Regions from separate parts of the Homo sapiens genome. Here region 2 is linked to region 1. Evidence: fine-mapped expression QTL. A gene starts in region 1. The other region holds a variant in brackets. All regions are shown on one strand. Distances are between the middles of the regions.

Region 1 (2,915 bases):
ATACAATTTATCCAAAGCTTGGGCAGCCCGAGAGCCCTTTTATCCCTCACTAGTGAATCAGTTCTATTGTAGGAGAGAGACATTCTTTCCTCCCCTTTTCGCTTAAAAAACATAACAAACCTGAATAGACTCCAGGCTAGAGTAGTGGAGAGAGTGATTTTTATTAGATCTAACATAGTTATTGGCAAATGCCTAAAGACAATATTTAAAAAGAGAGCTAGAGAAAGAAAAGGCTTTCACTTTATGCCTTAAAGGACAGATTGGTTACAATTTAACATCTAAGAGGAAAAATTTATAGAATTAAATGGCCTAACATTCCTCTTTCTTCAACATACATATGAGAAATCTAAGCTAAGAGGACATCTGGAATGGAACGTTATTCAGCAATCAGAAAGCAAAAATTCAAACCATTGATGTTTTGATGGAGACAAACACAACTAGATTCACAAAGAGGAAAGCTGCAACCTATTGAAGTTAAAAAAAATTCCATATGCATTTTACCTTTTGGGCAGTTCTATTTCAGAAGCCCTTTGTAATATGAAACCCACTGTAGATAAGATACAACATGAAGATAGTCTGTTTTGCAGCAGCAGGAAATCAAATTGGTTCCAGAAACGAAGTTATATGACAAATGGTTTAATAGTATTGCTAGAATTGGAAATCTTGATTGAATTATTTTTAAATCATTAAAAAAAAGATTTTGAAATAACTTTGCCATGCTGTATAAATTGGTGATGGTGGTAGGGGGTCCACACAGGGAGTGTTGCTGAGGTTAGGAGGCATCTCATTTTATTGGCCTTTTAACTAAAGCATTATAATCTGTTATCAAAATTTAAAAGTTCAGTGGTGATTTACTGTTAATTCTGGTTTGCAACAAATATTTTCAGACAAACACGATACTTGAATTAACATAGCTAATATGTGTTGTGGAGTATTAAACAGGTTAACAAATATTGATATATTCTAGTATCATTTCCAAATTATTTTTAGGTTTAATCTCAACACCAGTCAGCTTTGCTTTACTTAAAAAGCATCAGAAAAAGTTCATTAAGTCTTAGGCAGGTCTTGGATTGTAGAAGAGACTTCTAAGTAGTTAGCAAGATGTATCACTGACAGAATAACCCAGTGCCTAATGCCTGTAGGTGAAATGAAATCGTTCTTCTGGCTGAAGTCAGGAACAAGTTAAAATATCACTTAGAACACAGCATACGACTGCAGAGATTTAGGAGAAATCTTACTTAAATAGGATGTGACTTGACGTTTAGGACTATTTTCTAAAAAGTCAAAAAACTTTTCCCCCTTCAGTACTTACAGTCTTTGAAGACTAGAGCCGGATCTCTGTGAGGCAAGACTTGGGCAATGATGTGTCTCAGAGATTCCAAGGTTCTGTCCATCTTGGGTCTGCCTGTGTGAGCCTCCTGTACAGAGTGTCCTCATGCCTGAATTCTTGCAGTCCTGGGCTGAATTTCTGCAGCTCATTGATGCACTGGATTACCAAGGAATCCCTTTTAACATCTGCCAATCAGACATTTCCCAGAATCTAAAGACCCCTCAGGGGGCCCTCTTCCCAGGCTCACTTATCTTTGTTGTATGCTGAGCTAATTAGCTCGAAAGGCTGGCTGACAGGCGGGTTCCCATTGCTTTCTTCTGTTAAACACACCCACCTACAGGCTAGCTGGGGAAGCTCGCTAAATTATGAAAACAGCTTTCCTCTCCAACCAGATTTTGTCTGAATGCTGTGCAGCTTTCTGACTTGAGTATTTCTTCTGGCCCTCCATCTTCAATTGTGTTGCCCCCAGGAATATGGAATCAGGAAGGTTATTTCTCCAGGAAATTTCCTGAATGACAAGACAGCTTCCAGCTCAGGACTGCCAGCTATATGTTAACAGTATAATCCCTATAAATCTAAATTTTCAGTGTAATTCTTCTTTGGTAAAGGAGTGCTATAAAGATTATGGGGCTGGGTGCAGTTTATCATGCCTGTAATTCCAGCACTTTGGGAGGCTGAGGCGGGCAGATCGCTTGAGCCCAAGAGTTCCAGACCAGCCTGGGCAACATGGCGAAACCCTAACTCTACAAAAAATACAAAAATTAGCTGGGTGTGGTGGTGCATGCCTGTGATCCCAGCTACTTGGAGGGCTAAGGCAGGAGGATGGTTTGAGCCTGGAAAGTCGAGGCTGCAGTGAGCCCAGATTGTGCCACTGCACTCCAGCCTTGGTGACAAAGTAAGACCCTGTCTCAATTTTTTAAAAAAATCTTTCAATAACTACCTTAAGAAACATATATGTATTTTCTCGTCCTGTTTCTTTGTTTTATTTTTCTTTTTAATAGGGTCTCATACTGTCCTCCAGGCTGGAGTGCAGTGGCGTGATCATAACTCACCGCAGCCTTGACTCAAGTGAGGGGCTTGAGCCCTGGACTCAAGCAATCTTCCCATCTCAGCACCCCAAGTAGTTGGGAGGCACACGCCACCACGCCTGGCTAATTTTTAAATTTTCTGTAGAGATGGGGTCTCACTGTGTTGCCCAGGCTGGTCTCAAACTCCTGGGCTCAAGCAATCATCCTGTCTGGGCCCCCAAAGTGCTGCGATTACAGGCGTGAGCCACTGCACCCTGCCCTGAAATTTTTAATAATTATTAAGTGAAAGGAAGTGAATTACATCAGAATTAATTAAAGTCAACCTTGGGAATGATTCACTTTGAAGGGTAAATAGGGAAACAAATGTTCCCAGGCAAGCTGTAAGACAGTCTGTCAGGTTTTACTTGCCCCTGCCCAATAGAAGTGACTAAAATTTGGGAGGGTTGTGGGGGGTAACAAGCCTTGGCTTCCAGAAGAGTGGCTCCTGAATTCAAATGCAAGGCTTAATTTAGTCCCTAGCTGTATCCTTTTTTTTTTTTTTTTTTGAGACAGAGTCT
Region 2 (2,915 bases), 41 kb before region 1:
TTCTTAACATTCCCTAGGGAAGATGACCTCCTTTCCAACTTCTTACATTATATCCCCATCTAGTTTTTGTCCTCTGTAGAGATATTCATCTTGCCATCATTATATAAAGTATATTTAAATATTTTCACATATTTTTTGTCTCACTTCTTTATTTCCCCTCATAAGACCAAATTCACTCTCTTCACATTTTCCCAAAACTATTAGCTCTTGGCTCAACTCCAGGAAATCTTTGCATGCCTCTGACTGATTCCATTGGAAATCCTTGCATGATTGCAGAGTGGGAAGGAGAGGGCTGCTGTGGAGTTCTGCTTACTAGTTTCCCCATGATTCTTTGCTGCCTGGTGTTCGCTGGCTCATATTCTACCTGGAGAAGCTCTGTTACTCTAAAGGAAGTTAGTGTAGTCAGGTGCTGTGGAATGTCCCAGCTACTTGGGAGGCTGAGGCAGGAAGATCATGAGTTTGTGCCCAGCCTGGGCGAAATAGTAAGACCTCTGTCTCAGAAAAAAAAAAAAAAAAGAATATATATAAATTTTTTTTTAAATAAAGGAAATTAGTGTTGTCTTTTCCTGTGAGGGTCTGTCATAGTCCTCACGGAAGTCTTTTGGGGTGTGGTGTTTTGTTTGTGGGGTAATCTGGAAGCCTGAGGGGCCCAGCTGCACCAACAGAAAAACAAGTTAGCCTCATAAGGTGAGGCAGGTGAGGCAGGTGAGGCAGGTGAGGCAAGGTTTAAAGTGAGTGGGGCCAATTATACATGTTCATGGTCTTTTATTTATAATTCTGATATTTTGTTTATCGTGAATTTTTGGCATGAATTTTGAGTTTAAAAAATAATGCATTATAATATTATTTATCTTGATTATGAAGTTTTTAAGCATCCCTTTCAATTTTGTACCCAAGAGAAATGTGTCACTTGCCTAGCCCTTGTCTGTCCCCTTCTTGTGGCTCTGTCTCAGGGGCAAGCCCAGCTTCATGGGCATGAGGTCTGTGCAGCTGTACAGGGCCCCTGCTTTGTTTAGTGCTCTGCTATCTTGAAATTCTTGGTAATTTTTGAACAAGGGCCCCTGGATTTTCATTTTGCACTGGGCCTGGCAAATTATCTAGCTGGTCCTGACCAGCGGAGTAAATTTAATATAGAACGAAGAATCAAGCTGTGTGTTTTCTTTCCTCTTCGGGGAAAATTTCAGTTGCAGCTCTCACTCTACAGCTTTCCTGGTTTATTTTGTCATTCATTTCATGTAAACAGACAACAACGGGGCTCTGTCCTCACAGCCTTTCCTGGGGTTGCCTCTGTTAGAAACAATGTTGGGCTTTTCAGCTACTTGTGGAGAGAAAATGCTCACTGCTTCTCTTTGGAACTCTTTCTA[G/A]GAGACGGGTTTGGCTCTGTGATTCATCAGAAATAAGAAAAACAAACACTGTAAATGGAGAACTTGAAAAAGAGGTGGGCACCATCTCCCCACCCAAGAGAATGGATTTAAGAGGAAATTTGTTTATGGGATGAAGTTTTAAAAGGCGACCTGGAAAATTTAGCAAAGATGTAAATAAACAACTCTTCCTTGGATTGCATTAGGCTTCAGAATAAATATATTAACCAGCTTCAGTCAAAGTCTGCCTAGAATCTGACCCTGACAAGACCCAGTGACTAGTGCTGCTCCGAACCTTCCCCACCAACAGCAGGCAATTTTCTCTGTGGCAAAGCTACCTCGAAACAGGCATCCAGGCTTCCCTCCCACGAAGTGAAGGTAAGCAGAGGCCTATCATGTTTCCTCTGAGTGCTGGCTGCAGGACGCCCCCCCACCCCGCCCCGAAAGCCCGAGGGCAGTCTGGAGACACCAGCTTGTTTTTATATGGTAGAGTCATCCATAGCTAGATACAAACACACATCTATTACCCACCAGGGGTACTGAATTGCTGTGTTGGCTGCAGAAACAGCCCAGGTCTGTGGGCAATTCCCATTATGTGTAGACACAAGCAGAAGCATTTAACCCAGGCCACTAAGGAATGTGCCAGGTCCCAGCAGGCAAGCTAGGGCTGGTGGAAGGAAAAGGGATGCGCTCCATAGGCCCTCCTCCTGGGTTGCCAGTATCCCTACTAGGGAAGGGAGTTTGGATTTTCCCTGCCCTCACATCTTCCTCTTCCTTTGTCTCCATCCTGTATCCAGACTCCTTTAGGAGAATTTATGAAGCATGTCCACAGTAAGATTCAAATTATTATTTCACAAATTTAAATACCTTACTACAGACCACACAGAAAACACATAGCCTATGCAAAGCAATTAAACTATTACTAAAAGAAGGTTGAGTAGAGCCTTTCATAGTACTTGGAAGGAATTTTAAGACTTTTTTTTTTTTTTTAAATCTCACCTTCCCCCATCTTTGGCAGACTAAACCAATCACATTCAAAATCATTCTTAATTTTTCCAAAAATAGCGCTAAATCACATACAAGCTACTGTGTACTGGGGCAGGCAATGTTCATTCCATAATAAAAGAACTACAATATTATTTGGAGGGGGAACAGGAATTAAATGAAATTCCTGCTTAGGGGAAGCATTATGCCAGATGCTTTATAAATGTTACACTACTTAAATCCCGCAAAAATTCTACAAAATGGGCATTATTATTCCTATTTTATAGATGAGAAAACTGAGTCTCAGAATGGACAAGCTCACAGATGGCAAGTGGTAGAGCAGACTTCACACATAGGTCTGTATGACTTTTTAAAGTTTATATTCTTTCTCTTGAAAAAATACCTCTTTTTAAAAGTATTATTCCTCTGTTTAGTTTTAGATTGTTATGAAAAAAAAAGGACCTTTTACAGATCGACTCTTTTATCCTACAATAGGGGCTCTGAACCATTTTGTGTAGGTTCAAATAGAGCTAGGTTAGACAGAGTTGTCAACGGAATCCATCCAGTAGC

Direction of the effects. Alleles are on the strand shown, and positions count from the first base shown. SD is a standard deviation of normalised expression in the study named.
With allele G in place of A in region 2, the expression in putamen of the gene that starts at base 1,429 in region 1 is lower (large effect, 1.0 SD a copy in GTEx).

The links.
Region 2: its variant is fine-mapped to the expression of LIX1 in putamen (GTEx, PIP above 0.99). The same link has a PIP of 0.9 or more in anterior cingulate cortex, caudate, cerebellar hemisphere and prefrontal cortex.

What each region holds. Positions count from the first base shown.
Region 1 is chr5:97,141,183-97,144,097 of GRCh38, forward strand. It overlaps LIX1 (limb and CNS expressed 1), which reads right to left and starts at 1,429. Exons shown (of 6, transcript NM_153234.5): 1 at 1,313-1,429. The coding sequence starts at 1,394. RefSeq lists an enhancer at 1,376-1,445.
Region 2 is chr5:97,100,394-97,103,308 of GRCh38, forward strand. The region is part of intron 4 of LIX1 (limb and CNS expressed 1); the gene reads right to left. It overlaps LIX1-AS1 (LIX1 and RIOK2 antisense RNA 1), which reads left to right. Exons shown (of 8, transcript NR_187470.1): 6 at 1,366-1,739; 7 at 2,633-2,701. Among named protein-coding and RNA genes, the nearest start is that of LIX1-AS1, 28 kb to the left of the region's middle. The variant G/A (reference allele first, on the strand shown) is at 1,365.